Regions from separate parts of the Homo sapiens genome. Here all the other regions are reported to be linked to region 3. Evidence: microRNA targets listed by miRTarBase, many of them from high-throughput screens and not tested one by one. Region 3 holds a microRNA gene; each other region holds the end of a gene's coding sequence.

Region 1 (7,114 bases), not on the chromosome of region 3:
TCAGCGTGACTCGCCAGGAACAGCCGCGCTCTGGGCAGTGCCGGGGTTATTTTTAAAGCTCCCGGCTTCCTTCTAGGCCTGCCTCTCCCGCGTCTTATTCCTTCTAATCTCTCCCCTGCCCCTTGTCTTGCGCCTGCCTTCCTAACAGCCTTCAGTTCCCCTTCTCCCGTCAGACCTTCCTGACCTCCCACCTGGTTCTCTAGGGGCAGGGTGGACAGGAAGCAGCTCAGCCCAGCCTGGGAGAGGCCAAGGGCTGCCTCCTATCAGGTATTGGGGGCTGGGCACCTGGACAGCAGGCTGGGGCGGGCTGTGCGGCAAGGGCTCTTGTGAACTGGGCCGGGGGCGGGGGGGGGGGGGTGCGGCGAGGGTGGTCTCCAGGGTACTGACCTGCTCCGTGTCTTGCAGAGAGCGCCTGCTCGCTGTGCCCCCGGGTTATGACGACCCCCAATAAAGGAAACAAGGCCTTGAAGGTGAGTGGGCAGGGACAGGAGCCTGTGGGCTGGGGTCGGGGGGCACAGTGGGCGTGCCCGCTTGGCCTGTGACCACCTGCACTGTGCCCCAGGTGAAGCGGGAGCCGGGTGAGAATGGCACCAGCCTGACGGATGAGGAGCTGGTGACCATGTCGGTGCGGGAGCTGAACCAGCACCTGCGGGGCCTGTCCAAGGAGGAGATCGTCCAGCTGAAGCAGCGCCGGCGCACGCTCAAGAACCGCGGCTACGCTGCCAGCTGCCGCGTGAAGCGGGTGACGCAGAAGGAGGAGCTGGAGAAGCAGAAGGCGGAGCTGCAGCAGGAGGTGGAGAAGCTGGCCTCAGAGAACGCCAGCATGAAGCTGGAGCTCGACGCGCTGCGCTCCAAGTACGAGGCGCTGCAGACCTTCGCCCGGACGGTGGCCCGCAGCCCCGTGGCGCCAGCCCGGGGCCCCCTTGCCGCCGGCCTGGGGCCCCTCGTCCCAGGCAAGGTGGCCGCCACCAGCGTCATCACAATAGTAAAGTCCAAGACGGATGCCCGATCGTAGGGACGCGCGTCTGCCCAGGCGGGTCTTTGCGGGGCCACTAGGCACATGGCGAATTTGGCTGCCCTGTCCCTCTGTTTCCTTCTCTTCTCTTTCCTCCCTCTCTTCCCCACCCTTCTCTCTTCCCTGCAAAGCACAACCTGTACCCCAGGGGCGCCGGGCTGAGCCCCTTTGATCTCGTCATTGTCGTCGTGTGTTTTGTATGTTGGGATTGGTCAGTTCGGCGGTGACGTGGGGTCGCCCCAACCCCTTTTGTACCAGGGCCATGCAGGCTTGGAGTCCAGAGTTGGTGCTGTGGGAACGGACTAGAGAGAGTTGCGGGAGAGAGAAGGAGCAGGCACGCTGGGCCTCGCGTGTCCCCGAGCAGTGAGGGTCCCAGTGTTCCCTCCACTCCCGAGTGGCCACAGGCTCGCGGGCTGGGAAGGATTCACTCTCTTTAGCCCCAGGGGAGCAGCTCAGCTTAGCCCAGCATGAAGAGATGGGCTCTGCTCTGAGAGTAGGGCGGGCTTGAAGGCCCTGATGGGTGGACCACCAGCCTGGGCGCAGTGGTGCTGGGGGCGTGCAGCTGGGCCCAGGGGCTGTGCACTCAGGCCTGACCCGTTGCACTGAACAAGACCAAATCTCTGGTTGTGCGCTTAACGTGAGGGTGGGTCCAGTGTGCCCTGCGATGGGTCCCGTGTCACTGTTTACATGACCTATTTGTGTGGTTATATAGCCCTTTATTTAAAAGAGAGAAGTTCCTTTTACAAAGTTATTAAATTAATTATATGTTTAAAAGTTAAAGAAAAAAGAGCTGCAGAGTATTTATAAAACTGTCTTTTAGAAAAAAAACAAGCAAGAAGACCATTTGACCATATGAATGGAAAAGGGAAGAAAGTATAATAGAAACTTTGCTAGTTAAAAAAAAAAGAAAAAAAAAGAAAAAAAATCCCTTTCTTGTAAACTTACGGACACCTCTTTGTGGCTGTTGGAGTTTAGTTTTTATATACACAGAGTTATCAGACATTATTTATAAAACTTAGTTTAAAAAAAAGACAAAAAAAAAAAAGCCAAGCCGTGAGCCGACCAGAAGGCCGTCCTCTTTGATATCTTTTGCAATTGTACCGAAAGTGACTTACTCCTCTGCCCTTCCTGCTTCCGTCTCTTGCCGGTGCCGTGGTGTCGTCCGTGCCTGGTGAGGTTTTGTGCAGCGGTAAAGTGCTGGTGCTTCTGGTGACCTTTGACCTGTGGGTGTCACTTCTTGTGTCTGTTTTCCCGTGTTCGTTTTTTGGGTTTAGTTGTGCTTTTGCTTCTGCTGGCTTGCTGGACCTGGGCTGGGGTGCCAAGTGGCGCCTGCTGCGTCAGAGCTCAAGGAATCTGTGCCCACCACCAGCTCCTGGTCCGTAGGAGGTGAGACATGGGGTTCTGTCATGCCCCCCTCCACTGAGCCTTGGCTACATCTGTGTCTAGGGCTTGGGCTGATCTAGTGGCGGGGTAGGTGAAACTGGGGTCCCTTGGGGCGCCCCACGCTGCTTCCACACCCACCACCTCTGGCCTTGGGTGGTGGCATTACAGGGATGAGGGAGTCACTGTGGGTGGCCACAGGGCTATGGCCAAGCGTTCCCTGGCCGTCTTCCTCTGGCCTCAGCTTTGTTCCTATAGGCTGCCCGCGCCGTGGGCTGCAGGTCTCGCCGCCCGCTTGATCCCTGAGGTGTTTCCATGCTGCGGGTGGTGCTTCCAGGCAGAGTGGGTGGGGGCCCACCGGGCACCGCCCTTTCTTCCTTGTCCCTGCCTCACTCTGAGAGCCTTGGGGGTCTCCACCAGTGCAGACAAGGGCTACAGTCTCCAGGGCCGGGTCTTGTCCCTCTTCTCCGCTGGTCCACGCTGGCAGCTCTTGGCTTCGGGCCTGCCTTCTGCCTCCCTTTGGGATCTGTGTCTTCCAGGGATCAGCTGCTTGGCTTCTGCTGGAGGTGCCTCCCTGTGGGGGCGCAGCCTGCCTCCTGCTCTCAGTTCCTCGCCAGAGGCTGCTGCCCTTCCTGGCTGGGCTCAGGAGGCTCCTTGTAGGCATATGATGGGGAGGGGGTGCCCCTACCCACCTCCAAGAGGCTACAGCCCTGTGTCTGGCCATGTGAGCCCTGGCCTTTCACCGGGTTGCTGGTTTCTTTTCTGTGGGGCCCAGACTTCTGTAAAGCACACAGATGTGGGTAAGATGAAAAACTGTGGCCCAACAGGGCTTAACCCTATGGATGGTGGGATTTTTATCCAATAGTTTGGCCTGGTGTGCCCACAGGATGGGAACAGGGAGGCACCATCAACACTTGTCATGTTAATGAGCTTTTCTTTGCTCGAGGTGTTCAGAGACAAGTCCTGTGTCTACCTGCGTCAGCCTGAAAATGGAAATATTGGCTGTTGACTCTTGTCATTTAGTGACTTCATCCCCCTCCCCTCAGTCTGATCTTGTCTAAGTAGAATCCAGGCGTTAGTTGGAATCATATCATAAGTATCCATGAAGAAAACGTCATGATCTGCCTCGGAGTGGGGAGAAACAGGCCCTCCTTGTCCTTGTGCAGCCCCCACTTTTGTCCTGGCTGTGGGTGGCCATCCATTTTGAGCACCTCTGCCAGGCTGCAGACCTGGAGGCGAAGGGAGTGTGGAAGAGGAGGGTGTAAGGGTCGACGCGTGCTGAATGGGAGGTGCAGGTCCTCGGTGCGTTGGCAGAAGAGGCTTCTGGAGTTTCGAGGCCATACCTCCTTTCAAGAGCTTTGGATTTGGGGCGACTTCCCTGGGTCTAGGGGAGTGTTCCTGTCCCCTGTCAGGTCAGCCCTGCGGAGCCACTCCACCCCTCTTCCCCTTCCCCTGGATTTCCTGACATAGATGGTGTGTTCATGTGCAGGTGTGAGTGTGCTGTCCTTCTGATCTCTGTTGATCCCGCTTTCCTACTGAGAGGGTGGTGGAGAGGGTGGTGGTCTCTTCTCACCTCAGTTTTTCTGACACAGCGAATCGAGGGCTTTGGCCAAGGCCAGGTCTCTCAAACTTGTCCGCCAAGTAAACCATGATATATGTCTTCCCTTCCACCTTAACTTTGCCCCAACTCCTCTTTTATCCTAACATGGACGCTCAGATTTCAGAGGAATACCCAGCAGGGACAGGTCAGCTCTCACCAGGAGAGTGAGGCCCCTGGCTGCTGCTCGGGGTGGCACTGGTGTTGCTGGCTCAGCTCTTGGTGCATGTTTCAGATATGTGTGTACACTTCTGACTGGTGATCAGGGCCCGGCCCACGGCCCTGAGCGGCTGCAGCCTGCTTTGGGACGATGGTCAGGTCCCATGTTGTCCCTGCTGCCTCCCTCTGGAGTGGCCACTTGGCCAAAGCGCCCATCCACATCTGGAAAGTCGGAGCCGCAGCCTGCTGCACCGTTTCCGCTCTGGGATCTTGTGAGTTACTTTTTTAGGCTGTGGTTTGGTGAAAGGAACCAACACATTAACGATTTTTCCCCCAGAAGCCACTGAATAATTCTTTTTGGTGTATTTTTGCCTTCCTGTTGGCTGTCTGGCCTTGGAGCAGGTCGGGAGAGTAGAGTACATAATCAGTGCCACACAGAGGCAGGGCGTGTCTGAGAGACTAATGCCTGTCCTGCCTCTGGCCTGTGTCCTGGGTGTGTACCATACCTGCTGGGCCAGTCCCACACATTTCCACCCTGCCCCTGGAGCAGCAGCTTTGATACCATGGGTGTCCCTTGAGTCTGAGCTAGAGTGTGTCCCCGATAAACTGTGAGACCTCCCTGTTCTTGGTGACCCCAGTTGGGCTTTGGCCCCTCCAGCAACCTTGTGTCCCAGCCCTGCCCTTCTTCCCACCCCCTCAATCTGCTAGTCCCTGAAGCCTTTAACCAAACGGGAGTGGGCACAGAAAGCCTTCTCCTGGCAACAGGACAAGGGCTGCCCGCGTGTCCAGCCCTGTTGCTCTCCTGGCGCTGAGAGGTGGGTCCAAGCAGAGTTGATCAGTCCCTGCCTGCCCTGCCTAGGTCTAGCCAGGGGAGGTTGTGTGTGTGGGAGAAGACCCCGGGATCTGCTGGGGTGGGATGGAGGTTATTAAAGATCTAAGTGAGGAGGGGCTGGGGTTTGGATGCGGGGTGAGGCCCGAGCGCTCACACTTCGTGTAGGGCGGGCAGGGGCCTGACCTCTTGCAGGGCAGTGGCCTTGGTGCCCTACCCCTGCCCTGCGCAGTATTTATTGCTAAATTATTGTCCAGGAGGGGCAGCACTGGGCCTGGCCCCCCGGGTATTTATTGCTGTACATAGTGTATGTTTGTGATATATAAGGTTTTCTTTATTTTGTATATGATCAATAAACCTTTTAAAGAGACTGGCAGGTGCTTCTTTGGGGCGACGCGGCGGGCGGAGCCGGAAGGGGTGGGTGGGGGCGGGGCCCATCTTGCGCATGCGCCCTGAGCGCGGCCTGCCGTGTGAGGCGGAAGCGGAAGAGCAGGTCTCCAGGGGAGCGATGGCAGCCGGGGGTCTGAGCCGCTCCGAGCGCAAAGCGGCGGAGCGGGTCCGGAGGTTGCGGGAGGAGCAGCAGAGGGAGCGCCTCCGCCAGGTACGCCGCCGCCGCTCCCCGGCCCGGCCATGCCCGGCCCGCGCCGCCGCTCACCGTCCGCCTGCCCGCAGGTGTCGCGCATCCTGAGGAAGGCGGCGGCGGAGCGCAGCGCCGAGGAGGGCCGGCTGCTGGCCGAGAGCGCGGACCTGGTAACGGAGCTGCAGGGCCGGAGCCGGCGGCGCGAGGGCCTGAAGCGGCGGCAGGAGGAGGCGAGTTCCGCGTGCGGCGCGCGGGCGCCCCCGGTTTCGGGAGCAGCTGGGGCGACGGGCGGTCCCGGGTGGGGCGGCCCGGGGCGGTGACCACCCTGGCGTCTTGGCAGGTGTGCGACGACCCGGAGGAGCTGCGGGGGAAGGTCCGGGAGCTGGCCAGCGCCGTCCGGAACGCCAAATACTTGGTCGTCTACACAGGCGCGGGAATCAGCACGGTAGGGAGGGAGGCGGAGGCGTACCCCAGGACGGAGTATGAGCTCCAGTAATCGCGAAAAACTCGCCTTTAAAGCAGCTCTAAGGTTTTTTCTCTTAAAGAAACGAAATGACCAAAACTTACCTAAGGTAAACGCTTTTTAAACGCTTGGCCTCTGTGTTACAGCCAGTTAAAAAAAACAAGGAGTAGAGATACGAATGGGGTGTAGTAGCCGACTGCTCGCAGGCACCCCCAGGTTATGTGGACAGAGCTAAGCCCAAAGTTGTGATTTTCCACTCTGTTCTGTCCATGTCGAGGGAAGATAAGTAGAAAGTGACACAGTAAGAGCCAGAATACACCAGGTGAAGGAGAGAATTGCATTGTGTTTTGAGAAGTTTCACTGACAAGTTATCCTGGGCTGTGGGACATCACTAGCTTTGAAAGTGTAGCTGGCACCTCGTCCATCTAATTTGATGGGTGTGTGTGGGGTGTTGGGCACGCGTCGGCCTAGCAGATCTGAACCCAGGTGATTTCTGTTCTCAGGAAGCTTTTAGGTGACAAGGATCAGGCATGTGAACAAATAACCATACTGTAAAGCTGGCTGTGCTGGGTCGCTAGAGCAAACTCAGACACACACTCTGCGCTCTTGGAGTTGGGAAACCCACCTGCGTTGGCTTTTTGTGGGAGGTGGCCTTGATTGGGCCTTGAAGGATGGGTGAGATTTACAGAAGGTTGGAATGAGGCACTCCAAGCAAAGAACAGCAGAGGCTCAGCAGCAAGAATGCAAAAAGGGAGTTCACTACTGACTCAAATACCCGGAGCCCTGGGGTTTAGTCTCCTCCCTCCACAAGTCACATGTAAAAGTCCAGTCATGCTGGGCGCGGTGGCTCATGCCTATAATCCTAGCACTTTGGGAGGCCGAGGTGGGCGGATCATGAGGTCAGTAGTTCAAGAACAACCTGGCCAACACGGTGAAACCCTGTCTCTACTAAAAATACAAAAATTAGTCGGGCATGGTGGCGGGCACCTGCAATCCCAGCTACTCGAGAGGCTGAGGCAGGAGAATCACTTGAAACTGGAAGGCGGAGGTTGCAGTGAGCCGAGATCATGCCACTGCATTCCAGCCTGGGC
Region 2 (7,103 bases), not on the chromosome of region 3:
ACATGTCATTTCTTTTCTGCTGAAGACCACGATTGGATTGGACTTGGATTGAATCACTGGGCTCGGGACAAACATCTTGGCTGAGTCATTACAAACACAAGTTGTCTGCACGGATCTCCAAGGACTACCTCTGCACCTGCTCTCAGAAGCTGCACGGGGAGGGAGGGCTCTTCCAGGTGTGGCACTTACTCCCTGAAGGGAGCCAGAATTCCATGCAAAGAGAAAGAAGGGGGATGGGTGTGGGTTTTTGGCTCACTATGGGCCTCAGGGAAGTTGAAGGAATCAATAACACAAACAAGTGAATAGGAATTCACTGTTGGTTGGGGGCATGGTGGCTCACACCTGCAATCCCAACACTTTGAGAGGCCACAGTGGGAGGATTGCTTGAGCCCAGGAGTTCAAGACCAGCCTGGGCAATATAGTGAGACCCCATCTCTACAAAAAAAAAAATTTCAAAAATTAGCCAAGCGTGGTGGCGCACGCCTCTAGTCCCAGCTACTTAGGAGGCAGAGTGGGAGGATCGCTTGAGCTCAGGAAATGCAGGTTGCAGTGAGCTGAGATCACAGCACTACACTCCAGCCTAGGCGACAAAGCAAGACCCTGTCTTAAAAATAATAATAAAAATAAAGAATTAACTGTTTACTGGATCCTGAGCTTTCTTGTAAGAGTGGCTGAATCTGGTCAATTCTGAGATGAGTCAAAAGATGAATGGAAAATAAAATCTCAGGCTGGGCATGGTGGCTCATGCTTGCAATTCCAGCACTTTGGGAGGCGGAGGGAGGAGGATCACTTGAGCCCAGGAGTACAAGACCAGCCTGGGCAACATAGGGAGACCCTGCCTCTACAATTTTTTTTTAATTAACCATGTGTGGTGGTGTGCACCTGTGGTCCCAGCCAGTACTCAGAAGGCCGAGGCAAGAGGACCACCTGAGCCCAGGATGTCGAGACTACAGTGAGCCGTGATCGCACCACTGCACTCCAGGCTGAGTGACAGAGAAAGACCCTATCCCAAAAGAAAAAAAAATTACTTTTAAAATTTTTTAAATTTTTTTTTTAGAAAAAGAAAATCTCAGTAAAGGGGAGCATGTAAGAACCGGTTGAAACCTTGAATACATTATGATATGAAACCAAGTATATCAAAAGATGGTGCTTGAAAACAACAAATTTTACCACCTGACTCAGACTTCTTTGTCGTTGTTTTATTTAAAATGTTATTGTCTCTGATTAGAAAATACAGTCATGAGGGCTAAAAACTGAAATGATGTGAAAAGGCATCCATTAAGCAGTGTTGCCCCACCACCCTTTCCATCAGTCTTGTCTCATGGGGATGGGGAAAATGAAGACAGAACGCTTTGCCTTGCTTTGCAATCCCTCCTTTGAAGGCCTTCTGTCCCAGGAAGCCAATGTTCATTTGATGTGGAAGAGGGACCTGTGTTTAACCAGAAGCTGTCCTCCCTCATCCCTTTCCCATGGCTTACACGCAGAAGGGAGAGGAGATGACCAGAGGAGAAATCAGGGGAAGAAAAGGCAACAGGGGAGGCAAAGGGAAAGGAGAGGAATGCTTAAAATATACAGTGAAATTTGAGTAGGATTCTCTACTCAAAGACTTCTCTGGGAAGTGTCCAGAATTGACCACACAGGTGCTGACGGTAGAAAGAACACAGACCCAAAACCCTGATCTAGTTGCATTAACTCCATTAGCCCTGAGTTCCTCTGTAAAATGAAGACTGTGGAGGCACCAACTAGAGGATTTCTGTGACCTTCTCAAACTCTAAAATTTTTGGCACTGGACTGTTCCACTTTGAAGGGTCAAGAAAGAAATCTGGAGGTTGCAGAAATCAGGGTCAGGCGCACATACACGCACGCACGCACACACACACACACACACACACACACACACACACACACAGATCCAGCAGCATCCTTGGAACATCCTGAAGTCAAGAAAGGCACAGCACTGTCTGCCCCGATAGAAGGAATTCCAGAAAACAGCCACGAGGTTGGGCCACAGAATTTCCAAAGAGAGCAATCTACAAACTGGGGGTTGATTTCCCAGTTCCTGGATCTCAGCAGTCAACACACGAGAAGGATTTTTTTCTGAAGCTGCCACCTCCAATTCTGAAATAATCCCATGTTTCAGACTGGGGCCGGGACGGTGGCAAACCTGCAGACCCTGGCAGCAAGATGAGGGCAAGGAAGGGAAAGGTCAGCTGGGCACAGTCCAGTTCTCAGCAGTAATGACAGAAATGAAGGAAGGAAGCTCAGAATGAGTGCACGGGGGAAATGGGTTTTGCTGATGCATTTCCAGGGCCGGCCGTACTCTTTGTTTTGGCACACTTTTCCTGACAAACAGCCAGTGTTCTCAACACATAAATACTAGTCCACGTTAACAACAATAGCATATGAGACCGCTCTCCGTAAAGATGCCAGATTGGATGCAAATGGACTGGAAATACCTTGGAGGGTTTCACAAAAATAAGACAAAGGGCAAAGGAACTTTGCCAAAGGAGATGGAGAGCAATTCTTTAAAGTTAGTGGGAGGGAGGAAGCAAAGAGCTCATAAATACAAGCCTCTTAAAATGGGACGCATTTGCCTCGCGCCTACTGGGTGTCTGCAGCTCAGCTTGGTGCCCCACACAGGACACCGACTTTAAGTGGCTGCCTTTGCAAGGCTGAGAGGCCATGAGGGTTGATGCCTGAAGTGTCAGCGCCATCTAGTGGAAACATGGGGCATGGCCGCTTTGGACGGCCTCAGCCTAAAATGAGAGGCAGAGAGACACGCTCTATTTCGCATCTCACAATGCAAGATGAGAGAAAGGCTGTTGAGTTTTATTTCATCATCGCCCGTTTAGGTCAAAGGAGATGCCACTTTGGCTCCCAGTCATCAATCAACTGGCAACACCCAAGGACCAGGCTGGGCTACATTTGCACATTCCATTTCAGCCCAGGTAGAGATGGAGACACTTATAAGAACGGCTTCGGAATGTTCTCCAGTTTGATTCTCAGATGTCAAAGCCTGTAGGCCATGAGAGGTCCCTACTTAAACAGAACAGCTATCCTTTGGTACCCTCTCCAAAGAAAAGAAAGAGTAAAAAAATAATAACTTTTAAAAATAGCTTATTTATGTGCAGAAGGTGTGAGACCTGAAGATGAGTTAACAGCCGCAGCAGTGGGAGGAGGGGTGACAGGTACTGCTCAAATGAGCAGCAACCTTCTGCCACCTGGCAAGAACAGGCGTTCAGTGCAGGGCTGGCCTGCCCCTGCAGGCTTCAGAGACCACTGCGTTTCTTAGAAGGGAAACAACGGGGCCGGGCGCGGTGGCTCATGCCTGTAATCCCAGCACTTTCAGAGGCCACGGTATCCCAGCACTTTCAGAGGCCAAGGTAGGTGGATCACGAGGTTTGGAGTTCGAGATCTGCCTGGCCCATATAGTGAAACCCTGTCTCTACTAAAAATACAAAAATCAGCCGGGCATGGTGGAGGAGGAGGAGGAGGAGAAGGAGGAGAAGGAAGAAGGAGAAACAACAGTCCAGAGATGATGCCATTTCCGGGGAAAGAGGTTGACTTGAGGAAGGCAGCCATGGGAATAAAAGCTCCCACAGATCCTTTTCACTAAAAAGAAAGCAGGCCGGGTGCAGTAGCTCACGCCTGTAATCCCAGCACTTGTGGGAGGCCAAAGCAGGAGAATCTCGAGTTCAAGACCAGCCTGGGCAACAGAGCAAGACCCCCACCTCTACAAAAAATATATTTTGTGTGTTTTTCAACAAGTGATTCAAATTGCTGCTCAGATTTTAAAACTTACTGTAACTATCAGTGTAAAGACCCATGCCTGGATCCTGTTTCATTTTTATATCAACTTGGTAAAAATGCTGTTCTTGACACCCTGTCCTCTCTATCCTCCCTCAAACCACATGTGATCTCTGAAAAAATAAAATTAGCCAAGTGTGGTAGTGCACGTCTGTGGTCCCAGCTACTCAGGAGACTGAGGCAGGAGAATCACTCGAGCACAGAAAGTTGAGGCTGCAGTGAGCTATGATTGTGCCACTGCACTCCAGCCTGGGCCATAGAGCTAGACCCTGTCTCAAAAAAAAAAAAAAAAAAAAATGCCGATCCAGAGTATTTTGTGATTTTACCTTTTACTCCTCCTCCCTTGCTTGGTTGGTAGTATGAAGACCAGAGAAGGAAAGAAAAGATGGAAAGGAGGCTGGGCATGGTGATTCCCACCCGTAATCCCAGCACTTTGGGAGGCCAAGGCGGGCAGATCACTTAAGATCAGGAGTTCAAGACCAGCCTGGTCAACATGGTGAAACCTCGTCTGTACTAAAAATACAAAAATTAGCCAGGCGTGGTGGCGCACGCACGCCTGTAATCCCAGCTACTCAGAAGGCCGAGGCACGAAAATCGCTTGAACCCAGGATGCGGAGGCTGCAGTGAGCTGAGATCATGCCACTGCACTCCAGCCTGGATGACAGAGTGAGACTCTATCTCAAAAAGAAAGAAAGAAAGAGAGAGAGAGAGAGAGAGAGAAAGAAAGAAAGAAAGAAAGAAAGAAAGAAAGAAAGAAAGAAAGAAGAAAGGAAGGAAGGAAGGAAAGAGAGAAAGAAAGTGGGGGGGGAATATGCATTTCTTGAGTCCCTAGCCTATGATAGATAATATATGTGAAACCACATTGCTTTATTCTCACAACAAACCTCATTAGGTCACACCTCCTGGGAAAGACCAGAAGGATCTGTGTCACTATGTGTCCTTCCCCCTTTTCAGTACAAAGCCAGGCTAATCTTAGCGCGAAGCCTACCAACCAAACCTTTGCGGCATATAAACATCCCTAACTCAGCACATCATCCACTCACCTCCACCTCCCTCGCCTCTGCCTCACGCTGGTTTTTCCTTTTGATGAAAAGCAGAGCGTCAGGCTCTTAGGAAGTAACTCCCTGACTTAGCTACACATTTTTACATGTCACTCAGTTTCTATGTAGAGGGATTATTTTTTTTCCATAACGAAAGAGAGATTTCCTATTGCTCTGCCCTACAGAGCTCTTTCTTGGATTAAGTCAATTATCATGGTTAGGTGTCACATGTTTTTGCCAAGAGACATTTGTGAACTAATTCTGTCAAACAGGGGATCTGGATTTGTCCTCTCCCACAATTAGACCTTGGGTGAAACATGAAACCGGCTTTGAGCTCTCCTCCCTGCCTTTCCTGGGCTGCCAAACCCCAAGCCAAGGTTGCCACTCCTCTGCTTTTCTGGAGTAAAACCTCAGGCCCCGTGATGATCCTGGCTCTCACACCATTGACAGCCTCAAAAATGAGGGGAAACACACTTGTTTTAGAGGGAACGGGAGAGACACATGAAGAAGGGTCAAGTACAAACCCAAAGGAAGTGAACCTTGAACTTCAGCTCCAACATGAAGCTCTCAGGGCAGCCCGTGTTCTATCCCCCAGAGTCTAATGCTCATTACTGGTAACTGCTGCCACCACCATGAAAGAGTGGCCACCACATCTTTATTGCATACTCAGGTGAATAACTTATTATACAATGAACACTCCTCCATTAGGAGACCATGCCCACTTACAGAATGCAGCCGTAAATGCGGTAAATCTATTTACAGAGGTTGGGGTGCAAGATGAGAGAAGTATCAGCCCCAGGAATTTGAAGTGAGAATGATCTACAAATTCTCCTGACAAGGAGCAACCGGGCTTGTGCTAGTGAGGTCTGAAAGAATTCCTGGCAGAGCGTAGGGGGAGATTAGATCTCGGAATTGACAGCAAGTTTGGGGACAGTGCAAGAAGAGAGGGGTGACCTGTGAATTGGTGCTGGGGAGCTGCTGAGGCCCAATGTGAGGCAGCACTAGAGAGATGAGTAAATTTAGGGTGATCTTTAGCCTCTCCTACCCAGGCAAGAAGGGTTGGGGAGCGGGGGTGCCAGCAAGTTGGCTTCCAGTGTAGATTCAGGCCAGTGGGCTGAGAGAGGCTTTTGCTATTTTTGCTCAGATATGCAGGTCTGCTCTGGGCCACAGAGCCTCACAAAACCCACTGTGAGTTAGAGGAGCAGGCCCCTAGAGCTGTGTGAGCCAGCGTGAGCTCAGATGACCAGACCTTTAGTCCATGGAAAATAACAGCAAGATTAAGGGCCTAGGCTGGGAGCTGTGGCTCACGCCTGTCATCCCAGCACTTTGGGAGATGGAGATGGGAGGATTGCTTGAGCACAGGTGGTCGAGGCTGCACTGGGCTGTGATCGCACCACTGCACTCAAGCCTGGGTGACAGAGCAAGATCCTGTTTCAAAAAACAAACAAAAAGAGTAAGGGTCTAAACTTGAGTTGCCTGAGACTCCCACTTAAAAGAAGTATCCAAAGGATGAGACAAAAAAAAAAAAATACTACAGCGCCTCTAAGAACTGGAGTCTTACTAGCCCACATCAGCCCCAGCATGGAAGAATTGTGGTTGAGGCTGGGAGGGAGGCAAACTGTTCCCGTAGTGTCTTGTACAGTTTTCTCAGAAGACTCAAGATTTCGCCCACATCCCTTTGAGCTCCCGCTAGATCTGCCGCCCGGCTGCATTTGTCCCACTCTTCAGGACAGAGTTAGCTGCCCTCTTTCTTTACTTCATAGTCTTTGTAAGGGCTCGGCCAAGCGTGGGCCCGTGGGATGGAGAATTCCTTTTGGGGAGGCTGGTTCTGAAAAGGAAACAGTCATATCGTGAAACCCACTCCAGTTCCTGCCATTTCAACAGGTCTCCAGTCTGGGCAGAAGTCTCATTTCCTTCCCTTTCTCCCAGGCCTCCCACCCCCAAGTCCTCTCTATGCCAAGCACTCATTCTTACCCACTAACCCCGTGAGGCCGCTTAGAGGAAAGAAGACCCATCATTCCTTCAAGTGGCCATCTAGGGGCCATGAGAAAGGTAACATCGTCTGTTTCCAAAGGATCAGTGTTCCTGAGGTGCTAATGCCTTTGATGAAGAGGGAGAAAAAAATCACTTACCTGCAGCTGAAAATGTGTGGAATAGGGGGCATAGAGCGTGTCCCCTGTCTCTTCAAAACCTGAAATGGAGGAACAGGAGAAATTAAACCACTGGGGCCCCCACCTATGTTCACCCCATTGTATC
Region 3 (7,114 bases):
AAGAAAGGCAACTTTGTTAGCCTAGGATGCATGAGGTTGAGAGCAATATTTTTTTTTTCCTCTCCTCCTTTTCTCTTTCTAGAGGCAGTGAAGGTTTTGGGGCCCTACAGCCTGGGTTCACATCCTGGCTCTGCCACTCACTAGCTCTGTGCCCTTGGCCAAGATACTTCCTTTCTCTTTGTCTTTCTCTTCATCTTTCAAATGAGGACTAACAGTCGCCACCTGGAAGTGTTGCTGTGACGATCAACCCAGAGGTTGTATGGAAAGTGCCCAGCAGAGAGCATGGCACCTAGAGGTGCTCAGCAATGTCTGTTTCTTCCCTCAGCCCCTGGTGCTCTTTCTGTCCCTCCCCTGGTCCCATCATCTGTCCCTGCATCCAATGTCTTACCCTCCCCTGACAGAGCTTCAGTTTCCTTTGGGAATAGAGCCCTTGGCTGGCAGGTCATTCCTGGATTAAACTTGGAGCCTCCAAGCTTTATGAAGTCCAAGTGTGCTATTTTAAACCAATTGTGGACTTTTGTGTGGCGCTTCCGCTGAATGGAAAGATAATTGTACCAGAGCTTGTCGAGAAGAGTACATGGACGAGTCATGGAGCTTACATTCTGTCCCATTGATTTTTTTTTTCCTTCTTTTGGAGGACTTACTAGCTGCCATCTGCTCCTTGAACATCGTGTTCATAAATATATAAATAATCGAAGTTGATGAGGAGGTTTGCTTAAAGAAGTGTTGCTGAGAGTGATTTTTATAAATATTTAAGATAATCTGAAATCATTAAAGGAATTGCGGGGTTTATTAAAAAACTGAAGACGTGTTTTGGAAAGGATCCTTTTCTTTACAAGCTGAATAAATGTCAAGAGTAGAGAAATGAGGGAAGAGAGCTTTCTGAACGTGGACATGGGATCCGTGTGGGTGAGTGGGCAGCCAGTCTGTCTGACTCTGCCAGGCCTCAGCGTTCTTTTTTTTTTTAATTATTTTTATTTTTATTTTTAGTTTTGAGATGGAGTCTCGCTCTGTCGCCCAGGCTGGAGTGCAGTGGTGCGATCTCGGCTCACTGCAAGCTCCGCCTCCCGGATTCATGCCATTCTTCTGCCTCAGCCTCCCGAGTAGCTGGGACTACAGGCACCCGCCACCATGCCTGGCTAATTTCTTTCTTTCTTTTTTTTTTGTATTTTTAGTAGAGATGGGGTTTTACCGTGTTTGCTAGGATGGTCTCAATCTGCTGACCTTGTGATCCGCCCGCCTCGGCCTCCCAACGTGCTGGGATTACAGGCGTGAGCCACCATGCCCAGCCTAATTTTTATTTTTTGAGATGGAGTCTTGCTTTGTTGCCCAGGTTAGAGTGCAATGGCATGATCTCAGCTCACCGCAACCTCTGCCTCCCGGGTTCAAGCGATTCTCCTGCCCCAGCCTCCCGAGTAGCTGGGATTACAGGCGCGTACCACCACACCAGGCTAATTTTTGTATTTTTAGTAGAGACAGGGTTTCCCCATATTGGCCAGGCCGGTCTCGAACTCCTGACCTCAGGTGATCTACCCACCTCAGCCTCCCAATGTGCTGGGATTACAGGCATGAGCCATTACGCCTGGCCGCCTCAGCGTTCTTGAAAGCTTCCTGGGCTTCCTTGAGGGTCGGAGAGGGCCACTGAGTAATGTGTGCCAGGAGTCCCCCCGGGGAGCACACATTTCAGATTCTGCTTGTGAGAGTCAGTGGCGGGCTTCTAGAAGGTTCCTAAGGCAGATCTCTTTTGGTTAATGATGGGCTATGTTTTAGTGAGACCTGCTAAGGCCATAGTTCCGGAGGCTTCTAGGTGGTAGAAGCAAGGGAGGGAGGAGTTGGAAGAGAACTTTCCAAACTTGAGTGTGCTGCGCATCACGTGGGGATTGCCTCGGAGGTTCTGAGCAGGGGCTGGGGCAGGGTGAGATGCTGCATTTTGAACACTTTTGCACATGATGCGATGCCTCTGGATTGTAGACCATACTTTGAGTGCAGTGGGCCAGGAGATCATCCAACCTGACCCTCTCCCCTTCATTCATTCAGGAGCCAGGCTGATGCTGATGGTGCAAATCTCTACATGACCCTGGAGGTTTCCAAGTTAGCTTAGAGGAGGAGGCATGCATGCGAAAACACACATATGACAAAGTGACAAAGGCCTAGGATGGACCTCAGGACAGGTGACAGTGGGAGCAGGAAGGGGTGGGAGAGAGACCACCTCTGTCTGCCAGCAGGTGCTGAATAAGCCCAGGAGGGCCTAGATGCTGTGAGCCATTGAGATGGGGCTGCCTTCAGGGAGCGGGGGAGGAGAGGCAGTGTGAGCTGAAGGACTGAGCAGAAACCCCATACTCAGAGTTTCAGGCCTAAGCATCCAGTACTCTAATTTTAACACACAAGGGAACTGGGACCTCCTGGGGGGAAGCATCTTGACCAAGAGGCACAGTCAGGACTGGAACCTAGGCCTCTGGCTCCTGAGCCTGGTTTTTGCTCACCGCTCCACAGTGCCACCCTCTGCATCCACTGCTGTGTTTAGCAGTAAGGCTGTGAGAGCAGGAGGATGCTGAGGACTTTCTCTAGTTCAAAATGTACCTCTGCCCTTGACCTTCGTTCATCAGGGGACTAGGCACTTAAATCCACAGTGAAAAAGAAGGCCCAATGTGGGAAAAGTGACAGCTTTGAAATCAACATAAACCATGCCAGAGACTAATCCTCTTTCTGTCTTTTCCCCCTCCCAGCACCAGCATCCTTTGATAAGAAGGTGGGGGAAGGACAGTGAGGGCCCCGTTGTGCAGAGGAGTTAAGGATGGGAAAGGCTTGGGCGGTAGGAGGAAGAAAAGCTCCATTCTTTCCTCATCTGCCTAATAGAGTCTCCTGTCACTGGCTCTGTCTGGCCGCTTTAAGCTCTTTGGAATTTACATCCAGTGCTCACTCAACAAAGCCTATTGCATGGCAGGGCTGATGGAGCCCTGGGCCTGCTTCTCAGCGCTGCATGACCTTGGGCAAATCACATCCCACTGCAGAACCAGAATTGTCATTGATGAAGCTGGGCTACTATCACCTGCTTCCCTGGAATGTTTGGAGGATTGAGTGGGATAATGTGTATCAAAGCATCTAGCATAGTCTAGCAGAAAGCCTCCATATACACGTCCTTCTCCCATGGGGCATAGTCACAGGTGGGTGAGAGCTGTATGATTTGTCCAGGGCTATCCTTCTGGCAGAGATGGGATCTGAATTTAATGCAGGGGGACAGTTTTTCATGATGCTTTTGGGCCGGGCGCAGTGGCTCACACCTGTAATCCCAGCACTTTGGAAGGCCGAGGCGGGTGGATCACCTGAGGTCAGGAGTTCAAGACCAGCCTGGCCAACATGGTGAAACCCTGTTTCTACTAAAAATACAAAAATTAGCTGGGCGTGTTGGCTGGCACCTGTAATCCCAGCTACTCGGGAGGCTGAGGCAGGAGAATTGCTTGAACCTGGGAGGCAGAGGTTGCAATGAGCCAAAATTGTGCCATTGCACTCCAGCCTGGGTGACAAGAGGGAAACTCTGTCTCAAAAAAAAAAAAAAAGATGCTTTTGAACTCCTCAGATGGCTTTATGAAAAATGAAACACTTTGCCATGTTAGTGGTTGGCGCCTTTGAAAAAGGACAGTGGCAGGTTGAGAAGCAAGGACCTTGGAGCCAAGGAGATCTTTGATTCAGACCCGACTCCCTGACTGTGAAGTCTTTTGCACATTGCATAACCTCTCTTGGCATCTCAGTGTCTGTTTTCCAGCTTGTTGTGGCTCTTAGGTCAGAAGATGTCTGAATATGCCTGACATAGGGTCTAGCATCAGTGAGTGCTCAGTAATTTGAGTCCCTGGTCTACAGAGCCTCAGTGCTGGGACTCAGGGAGAGGAACATGTAGACTAAGGGAAGTTTCTTCACCAGCCCCAGCTTTGCTCAAAACCAGAGTTGAAGTAGAATGCAGAAGACGACGTGGAAGTGAAACTTGGGCAATAACTTCCTAAAATGTCTGCTTTGCTCCCCTGAACTCTGGTTTTGTGTCTTGCCCTCTGCTTCTGGGACACGAGAGACCAACCAGTGTGTAGACAGATCAAACAGGCTTGCAAATGAAAGAATCAAATGGAGATTTCTGTGTTTTCTGAAAAGTGGTATTTTACAGTCATTCCTAAACATGCCTTCATAACTCTCAAGTTTTCAGGTCTTGAGGGAGGAGTGAGATTCATCCTGCCATTCAACAACAGAACAGTCACTGAGTGTGCACCTCCTGTGTGCTAGGCCCCGTGATGGATCCACATGGGGAATGATAGTGTGTGCCCCACAGTCACCCCACACATGTCCCTGAGGCCTGAACAGCTTGGAGAATGAAGGAGTTTGGGTTTATTTCTTTGGGTTAACTTAAACTCAGCCCTTCTAGGCCCATTCTTTTCACTCAGGAATTGGATAAGCTTTTCTGAGGGGTTTGGAATGGGATGGCAGGGAGAGTCACCAGACACCATGAATGACAGGCCAGCAGGTTGATGGTGGCGAGTGGAGCAGGAGCTAGGGAGTGAGGTCACATTTCTGGACTATGTGTGCAGGCAGCTATGGACCTGGCAGAAAGCCCCTCTATTTATTTATTTATTTAGAGACAGAGTCTCGCTCTGTCACCCAGGCTGGAGTGCAGTGGCACGATCTCGGCTCACTGCAACCTCCACCTCCCGGGTTCAAGCAATTCTCCTGCCTCAGCCTCCCGAGTAGCTGGGACTACAGGCGCCCGCAACCATACCTGGCTAATTTTTGTACTTTTAGTAGAGATGGAGTTTCACCATGTTGGACAGGCCAGTCTTGAACACCTGACCTCAGATGATCTGGCCGCCTCGGCCTCCTAAAGTGCTGGGATTACAGGCGTGAGCCACCATGCCTGGCCTGGAAGCCCCTCTTAACAGGGCTCCCATCAGGATCACGTCGTGGGTTTCTGTGATTTTTTTGGTCTCCTTTATGGCAATATTAACTTTCTTTTATGGAGCATGGAGCAAGTGTCCTGTACTTTGTTGTTGTTGCTGTTTTTGGAGATGGAGTTTCGCTCTTGTTGCCCAGGCTGGAGTGCAATGGTGCAATCTCGGCTCAGCGCAACCTCCGTCTCCCAGGTTCAAGCAATTCTCCTGCCTTAGCCTCCAAAGTAGCTGGGATTATAGGCCTGTGCCACCACGCCCAGCTAATGTTGTATTTTTAGTAGCGACAGGGTTTCACCATGTTGGGCAGGCTGGTCTCGAACTCCTGACCTCAGGCGATCCACCTGCCTCGGCCTCCCAAAGTGCTGGGATTACAGGCGTGAGCCACTGCGCCCAGCCATGTCATATACTTTGAATATTTTATTTCTTACTTTCATGGTAACTCTGTGAGGCAGGTAATATTATTCCCGTTTTACAGATGAGGAAACTGAGAAAACCTGGAGGCTGATAAAAAGCAGAGCTGGAATTCAAACATACCAGGCCAGCTTCAGTGCCCACCTCCTGTTTTTACTACCTCCTTTGGGTGAACCTCAAACGTAACTGGAAAAGTCTATGAATGGAGTTGTGTAGCCGAGAGCAGACACTGCTCCTGCTGGACCCTGCTGGGAGAGGGCGGTGGTTTTCTCAGTGGGCATCTCATAACGGCGGGCATCTCAGCAGCCCTCAGGGCCAAGAACCACCTACTGCAAACTCGTCAGCCAAGGAAGCTCAGAATTTATAATTGTGGTTGTAAGTAGATTACTTGAGCTAATGTGAGCAGTGAGGTTTTTGGTAAAGTTAGTGTGAAACTGACTCATACTAATAATCTACCTCTTGATGCATTTGGTGTTGCGATTTGTAGCACTTTGCATTGTCTGCATACATGCATCCCCACTAGAAAAGATTTGGGGGAAAGAAGGGTCCTGAGACCATACACTCTGGGGGATTGAATTTGAAAGGAAAATTTCAATGTTTGGATGCTGGTCCATGTAGACTTGAGCAAATAAGGTGCACATAGGATTTATACCTCTGCTTTCAAGTCCCCCCACCCATTTTCTATATGTGACCTTGCCAGCATACTCTATGCATGTGTTCCCCCTTCTGCAGGATTTCTTTAATCTGCTCATACCTTGGGTGTGCTTACACTTCCTGGGTGGGAGGTTCCAGATATATGTGTGTATATATATACATATATATATACATATATATATGTATATATATACACATATATATGTATATATATACACATATATATGTATATATATATAATTTGTGTTTTTAGTAGAGACGGGGTTTTACCATGTTGGCCAGGCTGATCTCGAACTCCTGACCTCAGGTGATCCACCTGCCTCGGCCTCCCAAATAAATAAATATATATATATTTTATTTTATTTTATTTTATTTTATTTTTTGAGATGAGAGTCTTGCTACGTTGCTCAAGCTGGACTCACTCTCCTGGGTTCAAGTGATCCTCCCACTTCAGCCCCCCAAGTAGATGGGACTATAGGTGCACACCACTGTACCCGGCAAGCCAGATTCTTTTTCTTCTTTTTTTCTTTTGAGACAGAGTGTCACTTTGTCACCCAAGCTGGAGTACAGCGGCGTGATCTCGGCTCACTGCAACCTCCGCTTCCTGGGTTCAAGCGATTCTCATACCTCAGCCTCCTGAGTAGCTGGAATCACAGGTGTGGACCACCATGCCCGGCTAATTTTTGTATTTTTAATAGAGACAGTATTTTACCATGTTGGCCAGGTGAGTCTCAAGCTCCTGACCTCAAGTGATCTGCCTGCCTTGGCCTCCCAAAGTGCTGGGATTACAGGCATGAGCTACCGCGCCCAGCCTGGAGTCATATTTTTAATGAGCATTCTAAGTGATTCTGATGCAGAGGTCCCTGTCACTGGGTTAGAGAAATATCTGTTAAGGGTAATCTGCCCGTTGTCATCTATTCTGAGGGTGTTGGGCGTGGGGTGGCTGGTGTGAGATGGAAAGGACAGTGGAGATCACCTAGTCCCATCTTTTCCAGCCTTTACATTTTTTTTTTTTTTTTTAAGAGATGAGGTCTCACTGTGTTACCCAGGTTGATCTTGAACTCTTGAGCTCAAGTGATCCTCCTGCCTCAGCCTCTCAAAGTGCTGGAATTATAGGTTCC
Region 4 (7,114 bases), not on the chromosome of region 3:
GTGCGTATCTATGACTTAGCATATAGATTATTCAATAAATGTTCTGCTGAATTGATAATACGTTTTCCACCTTTCTTTTCACTTACAGTGGGTAAAGGAAGAAGCCCCAGATATACTGTGCCTTCAAGAGACCAAATGTTCAGAGAACAAACTACCAGCTGAACTTCAGGAGCTGCCTGGACTCTCTCATCAATACTGGTCAGCTCCTTCGGACAAGGAAGGGTACAGTGGCGTGGGCCTGCTTTCCCGCCAGTGCCCACTCAAAGTTTCTTACGGCATAGGTGAGACCCTATTGATGCCTAATGCCTGAACTCTTCAAAACCAATTGCTAATTCTCTATCTCTGCCCCACCTCTTGATTGCTTTCCCTTTTCTTATAGTTTTTTATGCTAATTCTGTTTCATTTCTATAGGCGATGAGGAGCATGATCAGGAAGGCCGGGTGATTGTGGCTGAATTTGACTCGTTTGTGCTGGTAACAGCATATGTACCTAATGCAGGCCGAGGTCTGGTACGACTGGAGTACCGGCAGCGCTGGGATGAAGCCTTTCGCAAGTTCCTGAAGGGCCTGGCTTCCCGAAAGCCCCTTGTGCTGTGTGGAGACCTCAATGTGGCACATGAAGAAATTGACCTTCGCAACCCCAAGGGGAACAAAAAGAATGCTGGCTTCACGCCACAAGAGCGCCAAGGCTTCGGGGAATTACTGCAGGCTGTGCCACTGGCTGACAGCTTTAGGCACCTCTACCCCAACACACCCTATGCCTACACCTTTTGGACTTATATGATGAATGCTCGATCCAAGAATGTTGGTTGGCGCCTTGATTACTTTTTGTTGTCCCACTCTCTGTTACCTGCATTGTGTGACAGCAAGATCCGTTCCAAGGCCCTCGGCAGTGATCACTGTCCTATCACCCTATACCTAGCACTGTGACACCACCCCTAAATCACTTTGAGCCTGGGAAATAAGCCCCCTCAACTACCATTCCTTCTTTAAACACTCTTCAGAGAAATCTGCATTCTATTTCTCATGTATAAAACTAGGAATCCTCCAACCAGGCTCCTGTGATAGAGTTCTTTTAAGCCCAAGATTTTTTATTTGAGGGTTTTTTGTTTTTTAAAAAAAAATTGAACAAAGACTACTAATGACTTTGTTTGAATTATCCACATGAAAATAAAGAGCCATAGTTTCAGCCTTGCTGTCTTCGTGTCTTACCCCTTCGTGGGGCTACACATTCTCTTCCTCATATTTTCATGCACACAAGTTAACAACTGAAAAAGCGTAGAGTCATGACCTTATTTATTTACAAGCACAGGATAAGTCCCTAACCTCCCCCAAAGACTGAGCAACCCTACCCAGCCCAGTTAAATACTGCAACTGGGGGGGTAAAAAAGGTCGGGAGGAGGAATTAAGGGAAATACAGGAATAGGGGAACATATCCCACATTAAATAGTTATATACACATCAGTTCCTGTGGTTCTGTACAGAGCAGCGGCTGACCCCACCCCCACAGGACACAATGTGGGGAGAGGAGACTGAGGGTACTGAGGCCAGAGCCAACCTCTGGTGAAGTGCAATAGCAGCAGCAAAGTCCTAATGGTGCACAAGAGGGAGGGGAACCCCCAGGGCTACCCACCCCCACCCTGCCCTGGAATGTGTAAGGGACAGGAATGGCTCTCAGGGAGCACACAGGAAGGACAAGGCTGGAACCGTCTTCAGGGCCCAGTTTTAAGGGCAACGTTTTGCCTACTTCACCCTAGACACAGCAACCCTTGGAGGAAAGCAGATGGTCAGCAGTGCTCTTATCTGCCCCTCCAAACCTAAGTGAGGGCCTGGTTCCTTCCTACCTCTCCCCAGGGAAAAGGAAGGCAGCTGCTTGGCTTCCTTCTAGAAGCCCCGGGAGCCTTTAACTACCCCAGCTCCCTTCGTAGTGTCACTGTCCCCACCAGGGAGGGGCCAGGCACAGTCTGTGGGTCATCAGGCTCAGGAGAAGTTCTGGACAGGGTGGCTGACCTTCATACAGGCCCAATAAAGAGCCCGGCCCAAACACAGCACAGCCAACAGGATGACAAATGCCCAGGCTGCATAGATGCCTCCATATCGCCGTGCATGCTTCCATGTGCCAAACTGATGAAGATAAGGAGGGAGAAGAAAAGAAAGATGGGGTTAATGTTGGTCTCCACTACCTCCTATTAGTTCTAAGAACAGTAATAACTCACGCTTCAGTCCTTGTTCCTTATCCACATGTAGCCACCCTCAGGGACCTTCTTAAAGGCAGAGCTGATCAGCTTCCTTCCCTTAGGCGTAACATACTCATCCCATCCCACACTGTATCTCAGTTTTTCTTAATATCTGACAACTGAGCCAGGTTTGAAAAATAGCAACTCTTAAATTAAGAATTTCACTGTCCTATCCTCATCCTACAGAGAAAGGAAGGCTGTTTTTCACTCTTGTAGTAGTAATAAAGTCTGTTTGATCAGCCACTTTGCACTTTAGCTCATCCATATCTTAAAACAAAACAAACTAGTCCCCCAAGTTTCTTCCACTTTTTTTTAGGGTAGCAGTTTCCCAAATCTTAGCCTATGGAGATGAGGCTGCAGAATGAAAGAGGTTGGGGCAAGGGTACTCACGGCAAGGCCAGTGGCAGTGACTGCCAAAAGCAAGCCAAGCAAGAAGCAGCAGATACATCTCTTACGTGGGTATCTGCGCCCAATAGATGACCTGTGGGGAGGCAAATAGAAATGGATGCTTTCTATGGCCTTGTAGTTTTTACTCCATACATCAATTACCAGCTCAATCCCTAATCACTTACACTTTCCTGCAGTGAGGACAACGTGCCAAAGTGCGGTCTGTGAACTCTGTCCACTATGGAGAAAGAAAACAAAAATAATAGCACAAGCAGGGTCTCCCTCAATGAGAACCTTGGGGTGGGGATGCAGAACATGTTCCCATAGGACAGACCTTTCAGGGGTCATTACCATTACTCTAAGAAATATACTCGAAATGACTCTTAGTCTCCTTTCCCCTCCCCTTCCCAATACCCCTTCCTCACCAGAAAAGTATTCTTGCAATGTCCACAGATAACCCTGACACCCATGGGTTGGGGTTCTGGACTCAGAGGTCCGGGATGCACAGGCCCCAGGTTGATGATTCTTTTGCTATACAAAAGAAAAAGACTTGTATTTTCAAACTTGTGTTTGAAAAATTTTTAATCCTAAAAATCTTCACAGTCCCTGTTCCACATCCCCCACTCCCTGTCTATTAAGTCACTCGACTTCTCTGTACTTAAGATACTCTGTCCCCCAACTGTATACCCTCAAGAATCCTTGAGAAAGAAAGAGCACTGTTTAAACTTCAGGTCCCCAATTCCCCTCCGACCTCAGGATAACACACCCAGTCCCCAAGGCTCTCTATTCTCCGAAACGACATCATTTCATCTCAATATTTTTATTGAGAAACGAGAAAGACAGCTATAACATTCCTGAGGCACATGCTTCAAAGCCTTTTCTCCTAAATAAACACTAGGCTCTCTCACCTTTACATTCTCTGTATACGCTCATCCTTTTTTGACTTTCCAGTTCCCCACTTAGGCCCTTCCCCACCTTATGCCTCTTACCAGTAGGGCCGAGGGCATGCAATCCGTTGGGATGTCACTTTGCAGATAAGGAGACAGTTACAGGGGCATCGAACATATTTTTTCCCTGGGGGTGCATTCTTGATTGGCTAGAGAATAATAGGGTCATCAGCAAGCAAACCTCTAATCCCAATCCCCTCCACTTCCCTCCAAAAACACTTTATGAGATCAGAAAAATAAGGTGCTAACCAGGAAGGAGAAATAAAAGAAAGACTATATCATGAGATTTGCAAATAGGAACTAGGCTAGGTGTAAAAGTGAGAGAAAGTGAACATTAGCTTTGGTGAGTGGCTTCTGGGGAAATGGCTGTGTGAGACACCTGGAACTGAAACCTGGGTATCATCAAAAGCACTTGGCTAATAGCCGGAAGGTCAGGGTCTAGAACCAAGACATCAGAAAGAGGATCCAGGAAACAGGGCCCATTTCATAGATATGTGTAACTCACGGTGGCTTCATTGCAGACACCACATTTGACTACATGCTGATGCATCTTGCCTTCCACGTTGATGAGAGATTGGCAGACTCGGCAGGTGATCATAGGGGCACTCCCACTGTCCGGGCTAGTTAAGGGTGAATAGGGGGGTGGGTCCTCCCCAGGCAACACGGCTGGATGCCCCTCGGGAAACGGGGGAAATGCTGGAGAGGAAGCAAATAGAAGGGCTGGGATCACTTACACCCCCACTGATGCTCCACGGTGGTAGGGAAGTCCTTCTGATCTTCAACCCTCTGACCAAGCTCGGAGGGCTTCTCATAATTGGCACTTCTATCAGGTTGCTCAGAACCCCCTTCCGTCCCTAGGCTGTGGTCGCGATTACGGAGGGAAGGAAGCCTCGCCCAGTCACAGGTGCAGCAGTCCCGCACCTGGCGACTGGGACCCGCCTCCGCCCTCGGTCCCGCCCCCTCCCCGGCTTTCAGAGTACCCCGGGGAGCACCTCGGACCCGCCCCGGCTTACCCTGGGGCGGGGCATGTTTACCGGCTCCGTACGGTGGTGCGGAGGGGGTCAGGCCTCCCCCGGGCCCAGCCCCACTCCCGCCGGGCCCCACTAAACCGTTGCCGCCCGCGCCACCGTCGATGGGCTCAGACAGCAGCGGGGAACGCTCTCCATCTGCCGCCATGGCCGCCACCGCCGCCTCCCGCTCAGGTCGGCGATCCGGCTCCCTTCGCCTCTGCCGTCGCCGCAGCCACCGCCACCGCCGCCACCGCCACCGCCGCTACCGGGTCCCCAGGGCGCCTGCGCGCCGCGCGCCCAGCTCACTCCGCAACCAGTGGCCTGCCCCGCCCCGTTCCGTCTAGCAGCACGTGATAGGCTATCCCCGCCCGGGTCATGCTATTATTCGCGTAGATAAACCAATTCCTGGTCCTGTGAAGGCAGCTCTCCTTTTCCATTGGGGAGCGACGCACAAACGTCAACTGTCACATGACCTGCCAGATGCTGCTGGGCTTGCAAAACCTGCACGTGACTAGAGGTTCTGCAAGCTATTGGGAGCGACGCCCATCGCGCTACCTCCAGACCAGGAGGTAGGGCTAGGCTGCGTCTGCTCAACTGGTCACGTGTTTCTGGAAGCTGCACGGTCCCTGTTGCTCTGCTCCTCATTGGTTCAAAGACACCACTAAAACACTTTTCTCCGGCTTTGCGTTGTAGCTGGTTTCCTATTGGCTGGTGACTTTACTTCTTTCGTCCTGTGATCCTAGCGGCGCAACTGCATTGGCCCGAACTTAGCGCCAGAACATGGGGGGCGTGGCTTATGCATTTTAAAGGAGGCTGGGCGGGTGCAATAAAGGAGTGCGGAAGCTTGGGATCTTCTGAGCGGGGAGAAAATGGACGGTGGGGAACAGTAGACAAAGTTAGCTGTTCTACTCAAAGAAGTACCTTTAAAAAGTCAGAGTAATGAGGTACCAGAAGGAAATGGATTAAAAAGTTAAGATTATCACTCCAGCCTTTGTCGCTAGAGTCACTTTCAGGACAGGACACAAGACTGGGTTTTCCTGGAAGCTGTCCTTACAGAGCCCCGTCTTTCCCCATTGCTGATCAAATTGTTAAATTATCTTTTCATTAGTGTCTCCACTACTAGAAGATTTCATCGTTTTACTAAAAAAAAAAAAAAAAAAATTCAATAGAGATGGGGTCTTGCCTATGCTGGACTCAAACTCCTGAGTTTGATCTCCTGCCTAAGCCTTCCCAGTAGCTGGGACTACAGGGACAAGCCACCGTGCCTTTACTCAGTTTTATGACCACCAACCTTTAACATACGCACAAGTTTGTAGATTGGATTAATCAAATACAAGGTTATTTTCGTCACCTTATTTGACAGATGGGACAGTCTTTAGGCCTGTCTCAACTTTGCTTCCAGCAAAGGGGCAGTGCCTCCTCCCCTACCTGAAGTCTCGTGTGGTCTTTATGGGCGCCTGAACCACACCTGGATTTTTTCCCAAGTCATAGCCCAAACTGGGACTGCTTTAAATATGGGAAGCAACAAGGAATTGATAAAAACAATAAACCCCGAGGAGGTCCATTATCAGTTTGGCTAGCAGACTCTCCACTAAGAAAGGAAGTGCATCAAAGAAAGTACAGCCAGCCCCAAATATGTAATAACAAAGGAACTGCAGATGTCCCAGCACTTGGCTGCTACAGGGGCTGGAGACTTCACCTAGGTCCTGATTTTTTTAGACAGGGTTTTCTCAGGCCAACTTCTACTTGGAAGCTAGTAACCTTCGACCAGTTAGATAAGAGCCCCTAACAGACACTTAAAGAACTAAGGAAGCTCCAGATACAAAATAGGGAAGAGGTTGTAGCTCCATAGAGGGAGGCCAGTCTGCTGCTTTTTCTGCTGTTTGTGGCACACAGATGCTCAAGCATTGTCTGGGGTTGGAGTAGGATCCATTATTTGCGCCCTAGTTACACATATATTCCAAAAACTGTCCTAAAAATATTTTTTAAATATCTACACTTTGTGAAAGACACTCCTTAAAAAAGCTTACACTCTGGGTAGGGAGACAGAATAGTGTAAACATTGACAGTATAACATATCAGGTCAGGAGTGGTGGCTCATGCCTGTAATCCCGGTGTTTTGGGAGGCTGAGGTGGAGGATTGCTTGAGCCCAGGAGTTCAAGGTTACAATGAGCCATGATCTAAACCTGGGCAACAGAGCAAGATCGTGTCTCAAAAAAAAAAAAAAAAAAAAGAAAATCAGCACTAGTATTTTATTACATGGAAAAATATCAATACTAGAAATTCATGATACAGCACATGCTTCATAATAAAAGAATTAAACAATGTAATTCAAGTTCAAGAAAAGAAGAGATCACTTCTAGCTAGAGCAGCCAGAGAAAACTTCTAAAACATAAAGAAAAATGAGTATTGTGCATGGATAACTAGGATCTGAGCTCTGTGTTGTTGAGTAGATCAATAGGCAGAAAAATGCAAAAAGTAATCATAATATTTGGAACTTGCTCACAGTTAATAAAGCATTTTTTTTTTTGAG

Evidence for each region. Region 3 holds the annotated microRNA hsa-miR-5194 (UGAGGGGUUUGGAAUGGGAUGG, at 4,446-4,467, shown strand). A microRNA usually pairs through its seed, bases 2 to 8, with sites in the 3' UTR of a target mRNA and lowers its output. Matches are read on the target gene's strand: a 7mer-m8 pairs with bases 2 to 8, a 7mer-A1 pairs with bases 2 to 7 and ends in A, and an 8mer does both.
Region 1: the mRNA of MAFG is a reported target of hsa-miR-5194. Seed matches in the 3' UTR shown: 7mer-A1 at 3,434-3,440, 7mer-m8 at 3,830-3,836 and 7mer-A1 at 4,844-4,850.
Region 2: the mRNA of GPRC5A is a reported target of hsa-miR-5194. Seed matches in the 3' UTR shown: 7mer-m8 at 5,792-5,798, 7mer-A1 at 5,307-5,313 and 7mer-m8 at 3,177-3,183.
Region 4: the mRNA of APEX1 is a reported target of hsa-miR-5194. Seed matches in the 3' UTR shown: 7mer-A1 at 967-973.

The regions. Positions count from the first base shown.
Region 1 is chr17:81,916,506-81,923,619 of GRCh38, reverse strand. It overlaps MAFG (MAF bZIP transcription factor G), which reads left to right. Exons shown (of 3, transcript NM_002359.4): 2 at 406-470; 3 at 563-5,350. The coding sequence starts at 435. The coding sequence ends at 1,015. SIRT7 (sirtuin 7) reads left to right here and starts at 5,444. Exons shown (of 10, transcript NM_016538.3): 1 at 5,444-5,581; 2 at 5,653-5,790; 3 at 5,901-6,005. The coding sequence starts at 5,489. MAFG-AS1 (MAFG antisense RNA 1) reads right to left here and starts at 721. Exons shown (of 3, transcript NR_186500.1): 1 at 388-721. RefSeq lists enhancers at 1-711, 5,195-5,244, 5,363-6,259 and a silencer at 5,375-5,844.
Region 2 is chr12:12,912,019-12,919,121 of GRCh38, reverse strand. It overlaps GPRC5A (G protein-coupled receptor class C group 5 member A), which reads right to left. Exons shown (of 4, transcript NM_003979.4): 3 at 6,980-7,038; 4 at 1,185-6,675. The coding sequence ends at 6,583. It overlaps MIR614 (microRNA 614), which reads right to left and starts at 3,293; the gene lies at 3,204-3,293.
Region 3 is chr8:130,005,713-130,012,826 of GRCh38, reverse strand. It overlaps MIR5194 (microRNA 5194), which reads left to right and starts at 4,374; the gene lies at 4,374-4,493. All of the region lies in intron 1 of CYRIB (CYFIP related Rac1 interactor B), which reads left to right. It overlaps LOC124902025 (a long non-coding RNA gene), which reads left to right and starts at 1,507. Exons shown (of 2, transcript XR_007061113.1): 1 at 1,507-2,171.
Region 4 is chr14:20,456,580-20,463,693 of GRCh38, forward strand. It overlaps APEX1 (apurinic/apyrimidinic endodeoxyribonuclease 1), which reads left to right. Exons shown (of 5, transcript NM_001641.4): 4 at 89-281; 5 at 412-1,188. The coding sequence ends at 929. It overlaps PIP4P1 (phosphatidylinositol-4,5-bisphosphate 4-phosphatase 1), which reads right to left and starts at 4,855. Exons shown (of 7, transcript NM_144568.4): 1 at 4,605-4,855; 2 at 4,076-4,266; 3 at 3,613-3,719; 4 at 3,049-3,154; 5 at 2,809-2,861; 6 at 2,627-2,717; 7 at 1,102-2,123. The coding sequence starts at 4,746. The coding sequence ends at 1,980. RefSeq lists silencers at 511-805, 4,310-4,479, 4,540-4,949 and enhancers at 4,175-5,141, 5,070-5,139, 5,142-6,107, 5,440-5,519.